Homo sapiens: one gene and its partners. The protein of the gene in region 2 purifies or fractionates together with the protein of the main gene of each other region. This does not show direct contact. Each region holds a gene or a part of one and is shown on either strand. Other genes may lie near its edges.

Evidence for each region. Proteins that work in one complex are often made in the same cells at the same time.
Region 1: the proteins of MCAT (region 2) and SHMT1 fractionate together in Homo sapiens (co-fractionation; one large-scale study listed by BioGRID). This does not show direct contact.
Region 3: the proteins of MCAT (region 2) and TAOK1 purify together in Homo sapiens (affinity purification with mass spectrometry; one large-scale study listed by BioGRID and IntAct). This does not show direct contact.
Region 4: the proteins of MCAT (region 2) and RCC1L purify together in Homo sapiens (affinity purification with mass spectrometry; one large-scale study listed by BioGRID and IntAct). This does not show direct contact.

Annotation. Positions count from the first base shown.
Region 1 is NC_000017.11:18,357,051-18,360,550, forward strand, and holds part of SHMT1 (serine hydroxymethyltransferase, cytosolic), read right to left. Parts: exon of another isoform or gene 3,364-3,500; intron 1-3,363. UniProt on the Homo sapiens protein: Interconversion of serine and glycine.
Region 2 is NC_000022.11:43,136,899-43,140,398, forward strand, and holds part of MCAT (malonyl-CoA-acyl carrier protein transacylase, mitochondrial isoform a precursor), read right to left. Parts: intron 401-3,500; coding exon 183-400; intron 1-182. UniProt on the Homo sapiens protein: Catalyzes the transfer of a malonyl moiety from malonyl-CoA to the free thiol group of the phosphopantetheine arm of the mitochondrial ACP protein (NDUFAB1). This suggests the existence of the biosynthesis of fatty acids in mitochondria.
Region 3 is NC_000017.11:29,389,059-29,393,162, forward strand, and holds the start of TAOK1 (serine/threonine-protein kinase TAO1), read left to right. Parts: upstream 1-1,304; 5' UTR 1,305-1,966; intron 1,967-4,104. UniProt on the Homo sapiens protein: Serine/threonine-protein kinase involved in various processes such as p38/MAPK14 stress-activated MAPK cascade, DNA damage response and regulation of cytoskeleton stability. Phosphorylates MAP2K3, MAP2K6 and MARK2.
Region 4 is NC_000007.14:75,042,803-75,046,302, forward strand, and holds part of RCC1L (RCC1-like G exchanging factor-like protein), read right to left. Parts: intron 308-3,500; coding exon 230-307; 3' UTR 1-229. UniProt on the Homo sapiens protein: Guanine nucleotide exchange factor (GEF) for mitochondrial dynamin-related GTPase OPA1. Activates OPA1, by exchanging bound GDP for free GTP, and drives OPA1 and MFN1-dependent mitochondrial fusion. Plays an essential role in mitochondrial ribosome biogenesis.

The DNA of each region.
Region 1 (3,500 bases), on a different chromosome or scaffold from region 2:
GTGGGCAGATCACAAGATCTGGAGTTGGAGACCATCCTGGCCAACCTGGTGAAACCCCATCTCTACTAAAAATACAAAAAATGAGCTGGACGTTGTGGCACATGCCTGTAGTCCCAGCTACTTGGGAGGCTGAGGCAGGAGAATCTCTTGAATCTGGGAGGCAGAGCTTGCAGTGAGCCGAGATCACACCACTGCACTCCAGCCTGGCCATAGAGCAAGACTCCACCTCAAAAAAAAAAAAAAAAAAAAAAAAAAAGAGTATTTTCCAAATGACTGAACAGATGAATCATTGACTTGAAACAATTCCACTGGCAGGGAACTGGCAGGCCCTCATAAAATAGTAAATATTCACTATTTAGCAACTTTTCAAAAGATTTTTTGGGACACACAAGTTAATGATGAACAGGATATAGGCAGTTGGGATCATCTTTCCAGGATGACCACCAGTAGTATTTTATAAATGATAATGTAAGTACAGCAAATAGCACCTATTCACTCAGTCTGGACACATTTCTCCAGGCTCCAGAAAAATGTAAATGGGAGTTTTGCTATAAGAAGGGCCTCAAAAATCTCTGTACGATTTTTGAATACATAAGGACCTCATTTTAATCCTAGCAACACTTTAATGTGTTAATTTATTTCATACTTCAAGTAATGAAATTGAGGCTCAGGGCCAGGCATGGCAACTCACACCTGTAACCCCAGCACTTTGGGAGGCCAGGAGTTCAAGACCAGCCTGGGCATTGCTACAAAAAAAAAAGTTAGCTGGGCATGGTGGGATGGGCCTATAGTCCTACCTACTGAGCTAGGACTCTTTTTTTTTTTTTTTTTGAGACAGAGTCTCACTCTGTCGCCCAGGCTGGAGTACAGTGGCGCGATCTCGGCTCACTGCAAGCTCCACCTCCCGGGTTCATGCCATTCTCCTGCCTCAGCCTCCCAAGTAGCCAGGAACACAGGCACCCACCACCATGCCTGGCTAATTTTTTTTTTATTTTTTCAGTAGAGATGGGGTTTCACCGGTTAGCCAGGATGGTCTCGGCCTCCCAAAGTGCTGGGATTACAGGTGTGAGCCACCGCGCCCAGCCTGGGCTAGGACTCTTAAAAAAAAAAAAAAAAGAACTAAAGAAAGAAAAACGACGTTAGAAAAGTGAAATATTGTGGCTGGGCGCAGTGGCTCATGCCTGTAATCCCAGTACTTTGGGAGGCCGAGGTGGGCGGATCAGGAGGTCAGGAGATCGAGACCATCCTGGCCTACACGGTGAAACCCCATCTCTACTAAAAATACAAAAATTAGCCGGGCGTAGTGGCTCACGCCTGTAATCCCAGCTACTCGGGAGGCTGAGGCAGGAGAATCACTTGAACCTGGGAGTCAGAGGTTGCAGTGAGCCAAGATCACCACTGCACTCCAGGCTGGCAACAGAGCGAGACTCTGTCTCAAAGAAAAGTAAAATATCTTAGCCCAGGGCTGCACAGAAAGTTAGCCACAGAGGCAGGACTCGAAACCCCAAAGCACATGCTCTAAGTAATCCACAGAGTTCCTGTGAAGCTGTTAGTTAAAATATGTACTTGGGCTGGGTGTGGTGGTTCATGCCTGTAATTCCAGCACTTTGGGAGGCTGAGGCAGGAGGATCACTTGAGCCCAGGAGTTCAAGACTGGCCTGGGCAACATGGCAAAGCCCCATTTCTACAAAAAATACAAATTATTAGCTGGTCGTGGTGGCATGCATCTGTAGTCCCAGCTATTCAGGAGGCTGAGGTGGGAGGATCACCTGAGCCTGGAAGCTAGAGGTTGCAATGAGCCGTGATTGTGGCAGTGCATTCCAGCCTGGGTGACAGAGTAAGACCCTGTGTGTGTGTGTTTTTTTCTTTTAAATAAAAAAAGGACTTGTTTGAATATAAATCTTCCTAAAGAATTACAGGTTGGGCTGGGCCCAGTGGCTCATGCCTGTAATCCCAGCACTTTGGGAGGCCAAGGCGTGCGGATCATGAGGTCATAAGTTCGAGACCAGCCTGGCCAACATGACTAAAAATACAAAAATTACCCAGGTGTGGTGGCAGGCACCTGTAACCCCAGCTACTTGGGAGGCTGAGGCAGGAGAATCGCTTGAACCCGGGAGGCGGAAGTTGTAGTGAGCCGAGATCACACCACTGCACTCTAGCCTGGGTGACAAAGCAAGACTCTGTCTCCAGGGGAAAAAAAAAAAAGGGCCTGGTATGGTGGCTTATGCCTGTAATCCCAGCACTTAGGGGAGTCAAGGCAGGAGGATCCTTTGAGCCTAGGAGTTCAACCACAGCCTAGGCAACACAGTGAAACCACGTCTCTACAAAAATTTAGAAATTAGGCTGGGCAAGGTGGCTCACATCTGTAATCCCAGCACTTTGGAAGGCTGAGGTGGGCAGATCAACTTGAGGCCAGGAGTTTGAGACCAGCCTGGCTAACATGGTGAAACCCTGTCTATAGCAAAAATATAAAAAATTAATTGGGTGTGGTGGCACACACCTGAGGCATGAGACTTACTTGAGCCTCAGAGGTGGAGGCTGCAGTGAGCCGAGATTGTGCCACTGCACTCCAGTCTGGGTGACAGAGTGAGACTGTGTCTCAATAAAAAAAAAAAGGCCAGGTGCAGTGGTTCACGCCTGTAATCCCAGCACTTTGGGAGGCCAAGGCGGGCAGACCACAAGGTCAGGAAATCAAGACTGTCCTGGCCAACATGGTGAAACCCCATCTCCACTAAAAATACTAAAATTAGCTGGGTGTGGTGGCGCCCGCCTGTAATTCCAGCTACTCAGGAGGCTGAGGCAGAAGAATGGCTTGAACCCAGGAGGCGGAGACTGTAGTGAGCAGAGATCACACCACTGCACCGCAGCCTGGCAACAAAGCAAGACTCTATCTTAAAAAAAAAAAAAAATTATTTGGCCAGGCACAGTGGCTCACACCTGTAACCCCAGCACTTTGGGAGGCCAAGGCGGGCGGATCACCTGAGGTCAGGAGTTCGAGACCAGCCTGGCCAACACAGCGAAACCCCGTCTCTACTAAAAAATACAAAAATTAGATGGGCATAGTGGTGGGCCCCTGTAATACCAGCTATGCGGGAGGCTGAGGTAGGAAAATCGCTTGAACCCAGGAGGTGGAGGTTGCAGTGAGCCGAGATCATACCATTGCACTCCAGCCTGGGTGACAGAGCAAGACTCCATCACAAAAAAAACCAAAAAGAAATACACAAGGCCAGGCATGGTTGCTTACACTTGTAATCCCAGAACTCTGAGAGGCTGAGACGAGAAGATCACTTGAGCCCAGGCGTTCAAGACCAGCCTAGGCAACATGGCAAAACCCTGTCTCTAAAAAAAAATACAAAAAATTACCCGAGCCTGGTGGCGCACGCCTGTATTCTCAGCTACTCTGGGTGGCTGAGGCAGGATGATCACTTGAGTCCCGGAGGTTGAGGCTGCAGTGAGCCCAGATTTTCCCACAGCACTCCAGCCTGGCCAAGAGAACAAGA
Region 2 (3,500 bases):
CAGCATTCTTGCTCCTGCCTGCTTTGCAGCACTCGGTCTACCTCACTGCCCTGGCCCCAAAATACTTCCTAAAGACCGGGCTGGACCCAGCACCCGCCAGACTGCTAGGCCTCACGGGTGTGGAGCAGTTCCAACCCTCCGTACTGGACTGGCCTATGAAGGCAGTTCCCATCAACACCCACCTCTTGGTGTCCTGAAATCACCCTGCAATCTGGAAAGAGGTAGTTGGACACTTCACATACGGGGTTCTCTATGCCTAAAGACTTGCAGTGTTCCCGGGCTTCCAAACAGGCGAAGTTGAACTTGGACTGAGGCTGGCCGAGGACAGACAGCATCCCACTGGGGACAGCTTCTGAAGCTTCCTGCATGGCCTCAGCTCGGATTTTCACTGCATACAAACCTGGCCAGAGAGAAGCGCATTTGGAAAAATGAGGGCACAGAATGAAGGAGAAAAGGCCAGGCCTGAGAAACAAAGCCCAAGCTCCACTCTGCACTAGAGACAGGGGCACTGGTGTCTGCCACCAGCCAGCAGGGCCACAGTTCCACACACCTCCATCGACTGCACAAGCGCTCACCACCAAAAGTATGCTGCTGTGCTTGGCACTATACAAACTAACCCAAGGAGCTTCCTGCTATAAAGCTGGTTTGGAGTAGGACAGTGGTGCTCAACAGGCCGGGGGCAGTGTCCGGAGACGTTTTCCGGTTGTTCTGACTAGGGGAGAGTGCCACTGACGTCTAGTGGGTAGAGTCCAGGGATGCTGCTCAACATGCTGCACTGCACAGGTCAGCCCCCCTTGCCCCCAACAAAACAAATGACCTGGCCCAATAGCGCCACTGTTTTTTTTTTTTTTTAAATAGTGCCACTATTGAGAAACCCTGGTAAAAGGTAAAGAGGAACAGGGTGGAAGCCACATTGCCTTAGCCAAGTCACAACCTCCTTGAGGTTCAAATTTTTAGTTAGTAAAATGAGGATAATAATATCTAATCTGCCTGGGCTGTTGTGAAAGCTGGGAATTATTATTAGTTAGTTTATTAAGAGAGATCAGGCCGGGCATGGTGGCTTATGCCTGTAATCCCAGCACTTTGGGAGGCTGAGGCAGGACGGCTTGAGCCCAAGGAGCTCGACACCAGCCTGAGCAACATAGGGAGACCCTGTCCCTGCAAAAAATAAAATACAAATTAGCCAGGCATGGTGGTGCCTGCCTGTAGTCCCAGATGCTTGGGAGGCTGACACGGAAGGATCACTTGTGACCAGCAGGTTGAGGCTGCAGCTGTAGTAAGCTATGATTGCTCCACTGCACACCAGCCTGGTGACAGAGCAAGACCCTGTCTCAAAACAAGAACAACAAAAAAGAACCATCAGAGACATGGGCTACTGTACTACATGAATTTCAGTGACATAATTGTCATAAGTCAAGTGTTACTGTCCCCACTTAGAGCTGGAGAACCTGACACAGCCAATGCAGATGAACGAAAACCTATGACTCCTGATTCAGTGTGGCTCAAGAGCATGGAGAGAGGGCAGGCAGTGCCAATGATAATAAGAGTGGCCTGAGGGCTGGTCGCTGTGGCTCGCACCTGTAGTTCCGGCACTTTGGGAGGCCAAGGCAGGCAGATCACTTGAGCTCAGGAGTTCGAGACCAGACTAGACAACATGGTAAAACCCTGTCACTACCAAAAATACAAAAATTAGCCGGGCGTGGCAGTGTGCGCCTGTGGTCCCAGCTACTTGGGAGGCTGAGGTGGGAGGATTGCTGGAGCCCAGGAAGTTGAGGCTACAGTGAGCTGTGTTCATGCCACTGTATTCCAGCCTGGGTGACAGAGCGAGACCCTGTCTCAAAAATCCCTACAAAGCCACACATAAGAATGGCCTGAAACTACCAGACCCCTGACACCCTGGTCCTGCTTCCTGGGCAGAGAGAAGAGATGACCAGACTGAGAAGAGATTAAGGGACCTGCACAGTGTTTCACAGGTCAACAGAGAGGTCTAAGGAGCAAATCCTGACATATCTTCATTCACTTAGCACTTCTATGTACTGGACTTTTAGCTCCCTTACACAAGAACAGGAGGACAAATACATAAACAGCCTGTGACATCAGGTACTTAGGAGGCTAAGGCAGGAGGACTGCTTGAGATCAGGAGTTAGAGGCTGCAGTGAGCTATGGTTGCATCACTGCACTCAAGGCTGGAAGACAGAGGAAAACTCTGTCTCTTAAAAAACAAATGAACAAGAGCCTGTGACAAGAAGTAGAAGAAAACATACAAGAAAAGGGAGGAGAGCACGCAGACATCCTCCCACAGAGACATTCAAAACTATGTAAAATGTCAAGGGAAAAAAGTAGGCCAGGCACAGTGGCTAATGCCTGTAAGTAATCCCAGCACTGTAGGAGGCTGAAGCTGGAGGATCACTTGAGTCAGGAGTTCCAGACCAGCCCTGGCAACATAGCGAGACCCCATCTCTACAAAAACTTCTAAAATTAGCTGGGCATGATGGTGTGAGCCTGTAGTCCCAGTTAGTCTGGAGACTGAAGCGGGAGGATCACTTGAGGCCAAGAGGCTGAGGCTGCAGTGAGCTACGACTGCACCACTGCACTGCAGCTGGGGTGACAGAGCAAGATACTGCCTCAAAAAAGAAAAAGAAAAAGAAAACACAAAAGTGTAACTATGCTATAATTCTGCACTTTTTTTTTTTTTTTTGACACAGAGTCTCATTCTCTAACCCAAGCTGGAGTGCAGTGGCACAATCTCGGCTCACTGCAACCTCTGCCTCCTGGTTCAAGTGATTCTTGTGCCTCAGCCTCCCAAGTAGCTAAGATTACAGGTGCACGCCACCACACCCAGATAATTTTTGAATTTTTAGTAGAGATGGGGTTTTACCACGTTGGTCAGGCTGGTCTCAAACTCCTGCCTTAGGTGATCCACCCACCTTGGCCTCCCAAAGTGCTGGGCTGGGATTACAGGCGTGAGCCACCACACCAAGCCTAATTCTGCACATTATGTACACATAAAATGATACATGTAATAAAATTGTTTCATAAAATGTGAAATTATGAAACTTTCCTTAATAATGTTATAACGCTTAAAAAAAAAGCACTGCAGTGAAATTCACATAAAATATAATTAACCACTTTAATGTGTATAATTCAGTGGTATTTGGGGTATTCATAATGTTGTACAACCACCAACTCTCTCTAGTTTCAAACACTCCATGTCCACTATGTAGGCACTCTCCATTTCTCCCTCTCCAGTCCCAATAACCTCTCGTGTTTCTATACTAGATTCTTTTTTGTTTGTTTTGGACAGGGTCTTGCTCTGTCACCCATGCCGCAGTGCAGTGGCACAATCGTGGCTCACTGCAGCCTCAGACTCAGGGGCTCAAGTGATCTTCCCTCAGCCTCCTGAGTAGCTGGAATTACAGATGCATGCCACTAAGTGCAGCTAATTTTGTGTATGTGTGTGTGTGTGACAGGGTGTCACTCTGTCACCCAGGCTGGAATGC
Region 3 (4,104 bases), on a different chromosome or scaffold from region 2:
TGATCAACATGCTCCTTCCTTGGAGCACAGATCTACTATGGCCAGCCTGGTCTCGAACTCCTGACCTCAGGTGATCCGCCCGTCTCAGCCTCCCAAAGTGCTATAATTACAGGCGTGAGCCACCGGGCCCGGCCCAGAGTTAATTTTTATTCATGAAACTCATATAACAGGTTTATTTATTTCAGTCGTTTTGTTGGTTAAAGAACCAAGATTTTTTATGACTACACTTTGTGTACACTTTTAGGTTCTCTCTTTTTTTTTTTTTTTTTTGAGACGAGTCTCATTCTGTCGCCCAGGCTGGAGTGCAGTGGCGCAATCTCGGCTCACTGCAACCTCCGCCTCCCGGGTTCACGCCATTCTCCTGCCTCAGCCTCCCGAGTAGCTAGCTGGGACTACAGGCGCCCACCACCACGCCCGGCTAATTTTTTTCTATCTTTTAATAGAGACGGGGTTTCACCGTGTTAGCCAGGATGCTCTCGATCTCCTGACCTCGTGATCCGCCCGCCTCGGCCTCCCAAAGTGCTGGGATTACAGGCGTGAGCCACCGCGCCCGGCCTTACACTTTTAGGTTCTTGAATAAGTACTGAGGGAGTTTTCCCTAAAAAAAAAAAAAAAAGTTTTGAGATAAAAGAATAAAAACTCTACTTCTTCTTTGCATAGGAGTCTTTAGTTTGTTTGCTGCTCTTGTTCCAAAACTTCTCATTACTCAACCTACTAAACCCACAGACACTTTTCAAGAAGTTATCTCTTTTCTACATCACCAATATATAGGGTGGCTTAGATCTGTATTTCCAAGTCTTACTGTCGTTCCAAGAATTAGTATCAACTATTAGAATCTCAAAAACTCAACTGCATACTGATTGCGCTGCCCAGTGTACCTCTGAATCCCACGGGGGAGGGGGTGTAGAACCGAGTTGTGCAGGAATGGGATATTCCACACTTCAGGGCAAACTTATTCGCAGGATCAGTGGCGGGCTTTGGAGGTGGGAAGCAGGAAGGAAGGGGAATGCAGATAAACTCTTCTTCTTCAGATCTCCGGGGTGAAATGAATGCACCTGACGCCCGCGTGGCATTAGAAGCTCCGCGAACTCAGTGAGGCCATGCTGGACAGAGGCTGGAACTCCGGGCCACCGGGACAACTCTGCCCGTAGCAAGCCTTGCGCGCTCCTGTGAGGGCGCGCGCGCGCGCATGTAGTCGTGTCTCGCGCAGGGTCCGGCCTGTCAGGCGGAAAATCTCGCGAGATCGGAGACGGGGGATGACGGTCTGGAGGAGGGGAGTGGTGTCGGGTAAAGGGGGGGAAGCTGGGCAGCGGCCGGGCTCTGTGGCTTCAGGGCTCGGGGAGAGAGAGGGAGGGTGGCAAAGAGACTGAGTCGGTGCCGCCGCCTGCCTGAGGAGAGAGGAGGGGTCCCGCTCGCCCTGCGCCCTTCGCGGGCCGAAAGCACTAGGCACTCGCGAACATCTGAGGCCTCCCGGCCCCGGGGGACCCCGCCCCGCCGTCCGCCGGCCGGCCCGCGGCCTCTCTTCCCTTTGTGAGCGCCTCCTTACCAGGGGTGGTGTTGGTGGCGGAGGGCTGCGCGTGGGCCCGCCCGCCGAGGGGCCGCGGCGGGGGACCGAGAGGGCCTCGGCTGTGTGAGGACTAGAGGCGGCCGAGGCCCGGGCCGGTTCCCCCGAGGCGGCGACGGAGACGGCTCCCGGCACTTCCCCGCGCCATCTTAACTGAGCCCAAGCGCTGAGGGCGCCTCCTCGACCCCGGTCGTCCCCTCGCCCCCCCCCCCACCCCCCGCCGCCGCCGCCCCTTGTTGCAGAGCTTGGGCTGGGCGGCTTGCTGGGGCTCGGGGGTGGGGGGCGGCGATCTGTCGCCGGGCCCCCTCCTCCTCCTCACTCCTCACCCTCCAGGGTAGCGGCTACCGGAGCGCTGCAGGGGGCTGCGCCTGCCTGCTCCGCCCCAGACCTGTCGGCGAAAGGGTAAGGGCACCTCTGCTTTGGGAAAGGGGGATATAGAGGGGGGCGGGGAAATTCGGCCCACTCGGGCCTGTGTGTGGAAGAAGGGATGTGGGAGTGGGGTGGGGGAGGGAGAAAAGGAGGGTCTGTGATTCTGTGGGTGGGGTGAAGAAGCTGGTGAGCTGGGCGCCCTCCGGTTTTAAGGGGCGAGAGCAATTCCATTCCTTTTTCCTGAGGGTCACCGGAAGGGGTGGTGGAAGGGGGATGTTTCGAGGAAGGTGTGGCCCTCACAGGGAGACTGGGTTGATGTGCACCCCGGTTTAAAGGCGCGAGGTCCCCTTCCCCTCTGGTGCCTTTGCTCCTCTTCTCCTTTGTAGTGTCTGTGTATTCTTGGGAAGGGAGACTGCTCTGGGTGGCTTGCTGGGTGGATTCCACCCCCTAGCACAGGAAATCTATACCCCTCTTCTGTAGGGGCGATGGAAGCGTTTCTCTCCCCGTACCCTTCCCCCTTCCCCATCCTCTAGTCTACTGCAATGCTGCAGAAGTCCAAGGCAGTTTCTTCATACACAGACCCATGTATACACAGAAGGGAGGGGGAGCAGGAGAGGGAAGTAATGGCGCTTCCCTTGAAAAGGTTACTCTTTTTCCTTTGGTTTTAAATCGACGACAGTATCGTTTTAATACTCTTCCCCTGAGATCTGTCCATGGGAAGTGTATCTGTTCTGGTGTTATTGTTGGGGGATATGGCCTCTCGAGAGGGACACCTCTCCTGTTAGAACAGTTTTGATGTCTCTCTTTTTGAGAGATGTCTGGATTGACATTTTTTGTGAGCAGGTTGGATTTTAGTTAGAATTCAAATAAAATAATTTTGTACCTCCTCATCCTCATTTCCCTTTTCTTTTTCTATGACTTTTGTAGTTCATGAAGAATTATTGGCCTGGCGCGGTGGCTCACGCCTGTAATCCCAGCACTTTGGGAGGCCAAGGCGGGCGGATCACGAAGTCAGGAGATCGAGACCATCCTGGCTAACACGGTGAAACCCCGTCTCTGCTAAAAATACAAAAAATTAGCTGGGCATGGTGGCACGCGCCTGTAGTCCCAGCTACTCGGGAGGCTGAGGGAGGAGAATCGCTTGAACCCGGGAGGCGGAGGTTGCAGTGAGGCGAGATGGTGCCACTGCACTCCAACCTGGGCGACAGAGCGAGACTCCGTTTCAAAAAAAAAAATTATTAACAATTATTACATACAGACAGCCTGTCTGATTCAGGGCATTTCTCCCTAAGCTGTGAATTTTTAGGGTTGATACTGTTGTGTATAATATTGAAATTGGATTTTTTTTAAAATGGTAAGGTTACAAACCTTTCTGCAGCTGTTTCTTTGTTCTTATTAATCTGCCTAATTATTCTATGATCTATTTTCTGTAGTCAGTCATTTTTCACTTCTTTTGCTACCTGTCATGTTTGTCTGAAAGCAGATCATCTTATCTGGTTTACAGTAGTACTTGTTGGTTTTGTTCTTAGTTGAGTAGAAATAAAAATTTAAACATTCTGGAAATGTGCTGCCAAGTGCTTTTTGTGACCAAAGAGTAGTTTTCAAGTCTCCATGTACTGATGATACATTTTTTTCAAGTGTTTAGTAAATACTGGTGATGTGATTTCAAAATATTCCACATATGACTATTAATAGAATTAATTTTTTCCCAAAGTGAAGAAGAAGACTAAAATGTGTACAGATAATGAGTTGTCTTTGGTGTATTTAGTGTTTTCAGCTCTACTTAGTGACTTATTTTTAAATACTTCAAATGCCATCTACATTTTATGTTGTCATTAAATGTTGTCCAATAGAGCTTTTTTGGTGTGTTTGTTGCATTTTGAAACCTGTTTTAAGATAGGGATTTAAAGGTGTTAGTAGTAGCGCTAGGCACTAACTTAGTTTCTGTCATTTTATATCATGATTTTGATGTAGGAGACATGGTATGTTAAATAAGTTTTATTTTTTTTTCTCAGAAGATGGAATTCTCTTTTCTTTATTCCCTTTTAATGGTCATCTCAATTCATTGAAATAACACTATTCATTTGAGTATTTATTTCATGGGACAAAGCTGCATGTTGTTGATATGTAGAGTTTTCTCCATTATGGCAAATTATGCCAGGAAGTCTGAT
Region 4 (3,500 bases), on a different chromosome or scaffold from region 2:
GGCTGCCATCCAAGCTGAGTTCCGCAGGCCTCACCTGCAGCTGGAGAGGGACCTTGCCCTGATCCTCCTGGTAGGTACCCGCTAAGGGATTCAGGACAGAGCGTCACACTGCACGCAGGGTCCTCCGCCACCACCATCCAAGAACCCCGGGGGGCTGGCCACGCGCTGGCCTCTGCCAAGGAGTGCCAGTGGTTCCCGGGACGGGGCCGCCCAAGCAGGTGAGGGAGGTTTAGATGAATGACTTGGCCAGGGTCACCATGTGGTCCACGCCACATGCCACGTCCACAGGCTCCCCAGGCATCGTCACCTGAAAAATAAGATCCAGCATACCATGGGTGGGGGTGGCGCACCCGGAGGAGACAGGCGCTGGTGTTGGCCGACCCGGCCCTGCCTCTCAGTAGGAGACTCAGTAGGAGACAGCTTGTCTCAGCAGGAGACAGCTTGTCTCAGTAGGAGACAGCTTCTCTGAGCCTCGGCTCCCTACCCTCTGGGAATGGGGGCACTTAGGCCTCCCCAGCAGGTCCATCAGGACAACTGCGTGTGGTCATGAGGACAAGGCCATCCCAACTCCCTCCAGTCAATGGCAGCCATCACCATTCACATCAGCCTGAGAGGGCATGTCGGGCAGGAACATGGGCCTGTGTGCATCCCTGGAACCTGCACGCCCTACAGGGGCTGCTCCCCTCTGACCCTAACCCCACTAGGCTCCATGCCCCCAGGCCAGGTGTTCAGAGATCTCTCCTGGGAGCCACTGCTATGGCTCACTAAGAAGCTCCAGGGGCTGGGCGCTGTAGCTCACGCCCATAATCTCAGCACTTTGGGAGGCCAAGGCAGGCGGATCACGTGAGGTCAGAAGTTTGAGACCAGCCAGGCGTGGTGGCAGGCGCCTGTAATCCCAGCTACTCGGGAGGCTGAGGTGGGAGAATTGCTTGAACCCAGGAGGTAGAGGCTGCAGTGAGCCAAGATTGCACCACTACACTCCAGCCTGGGTGACAGAGCGAGACTCTGTCTCAAAAACAAGCTCCAGAAACCCTGTCTCTTGCCTTGCAGGTCCAGTCTGGGAATCAGGCCCCACTGGCCCAACATCTCCACTCATCTTACCCGTCACCCCCAGCTCCAGTCACAGGCAGGCTGCGTCCCAAGTCACGACCACCAAGCAGGGGCAGTGGCTGTGTCTCAAAGACCCTTGCCAGGAGCCCTGATCACACTGCCTGTCTGGGCTGACAACATGGCATCAGAGGACAGCCCAAGCTTCAAGGGAGCAAGAAGATGGCCTCACTGAGACATGGAGGCTCTAGCCTGTTGGAAGGGCGCCCACTGTTCTATAGCCTCGCCATGGAAACGGACACCCTCAACAACTCCAGGTGTGCCCAGGGCCATAGCCAATCCAGCTATCCAGGAAAGGGGCACTCTGCTTTCTCTTTCTTGTTTATTATGACTAGGCAGTGCATTCACATAGCTGCAAGATAAAAGGACATTCAGTGAAAAAGAAGAAAAAGCTATTAAATGATTTTTATGCCGGGCGCAGTGGCTCACACCTGTAATCCCAGCACTTTGGGAGGCTGAGGTGGACTCCACTTGAGGTCAGGAGTTCAAGACCAGCCTGGCCAACATGGTGAAACCCTGTCTCTACTAAAAATACAAAAATTATCTGGGTGTGGTGGCGCACGCCTATAACCCCAGCTACTCGGGAGGCTGAGGCAGGAGAATCGCTTGAACCTGGGAGGTGGAGGTTGCAGTGAGCTGAGATCGCACCACTGCACTCCAGCCTGGGCGACAGAGCAAGACTCTGTCTCGAAAAAAAAAAAAAAAAAAAAAAAAGTCTTTCATTACCACACCTATCACCAGCTGCCCCAGTCCCCATCTGCCTCTGAACTGAAAACTACTTTTAACTGATTTCTTATTAACTTTCCAGAGGTTTGTTTTGTTTTTGTTTTAAGAGACAGGGTCTAGGCCAGGCGCAGTGGCTCACGCCTGTAATCCCAGCACTTTGGGAGGCCGCGGTGGGCAGGAGTTTGAGACCAGCCTGGCCAACATGGTGAAACCCCGTCTCTACTAAAAATGCAAAAATTAGCTGGGCATGGTGGCAGGCGCCTGTAATCCCAGCTACTCAGGAGGCTAAAGTAGGAGAATTGCTTGAACTCAGGAGACAGAGGTTGCAGTGAGCCGAGATCACGCCATTGCACTCCAGCCTGAGCAACAGAGCAAGACTCTGGCTCAGAAACAAAAAAGAGGCAGAGTCTCACTTTGTTGCCCAGGCTGGAGTCTAGTGGTGCAATCACTGCAGGCTTAACCTCCTGGGCTCAAGTGATTTTCCCGCCTTAGCCTCCCAAGTAGCTGGGACTACAGGCACGTGCCACCATGCCTGGCTAATTTTGTTTGTTTGTTTGTAGAGACAGAGGTCTCACTATGTTGCCGAGGCTGGATTATAGAGACACAATCATAGCTCGCACTACAATGTCGAACTCCTGGGCTCAAGCTATCCTCCCACCTCACCCTCCCAAGTAGCTAGGACTACTGGCATGCACCACTATGCTCAGCTTATTTTTGTATTTTTTGTAGAGACAGGGTCTTGCCATGTTGCCCAGGCTGGTCTCGAACTCCTGGGCTCAAGTGATTCTCCTGCTTCAGCCTCCCGAAGTGCTGGGATTCCAGGTGTGATCCCCAGGCCTGGCCTTCCAGAGGTTCTTTATGCAAAGAAGCAGATATGCATCTCTCTTTTTTTTTTTTTTGAGACGGAGTCTCGCTCTGTCACCAGGCTAGAGTGCAGTGGCGCAATCTCAGTTCACTGCAACCTCCGACTCCCTGGTTCAAGCGATTCTCCTGCCTCAGCCTCCCAAGTAGCTGGGATTACAGGCATGCAGTACCATGCCCAGCTAATTTTTGTATTTTTCGTAGAGATGGGGTTTCACCATGTTGGCTAGGATGGTCTTGATCTTCTGACCTCGTGAGCCACCTGCCTTGGCCTCCCAAAGCGCTGGGATTACAGGCGTGAGCCGCTGCACCTGGCCTTCTCTTCCTTTCTTAAGTGCCAACTGCAAAGAAAGTGACCCTGCCTGGCTTGGCCGGAAGACCCCTGCCAGGATGCTGGCACTTGATCTACTGACCAGATCCGAATTCGACCACCCTCCCCTGGTGGCAGCATGCAGCCAGGTGGTGTGACAGCTGGAAAGGGGATCTGTCACAGTCTGTGGAGTTTACCGAGCTTAAGAGGGAAACCGCCTAATCCAGATGGCCTGGCCCTAAAAGCCGAGAGGCGGCAGGCGCCGACCCCGGAGCTTTGCACCTACGCCAGGAGACAAGACCATTAGGGACTCCTGGCCACAGCAGATGGATGCTAGAAACCAAGTCATGCTGTCATCCCCCAGCCCTGTCCCTAAACAAATGAATGTCTTTAGCAGAACCTATTACAGGAATCACTAAACAAACAAGAACGGGGCCCAGTGAATCGCAAAGGCACGTCGATGCAGAAAGCCTGAGAGGCTGGCCGGAGAAGAAAA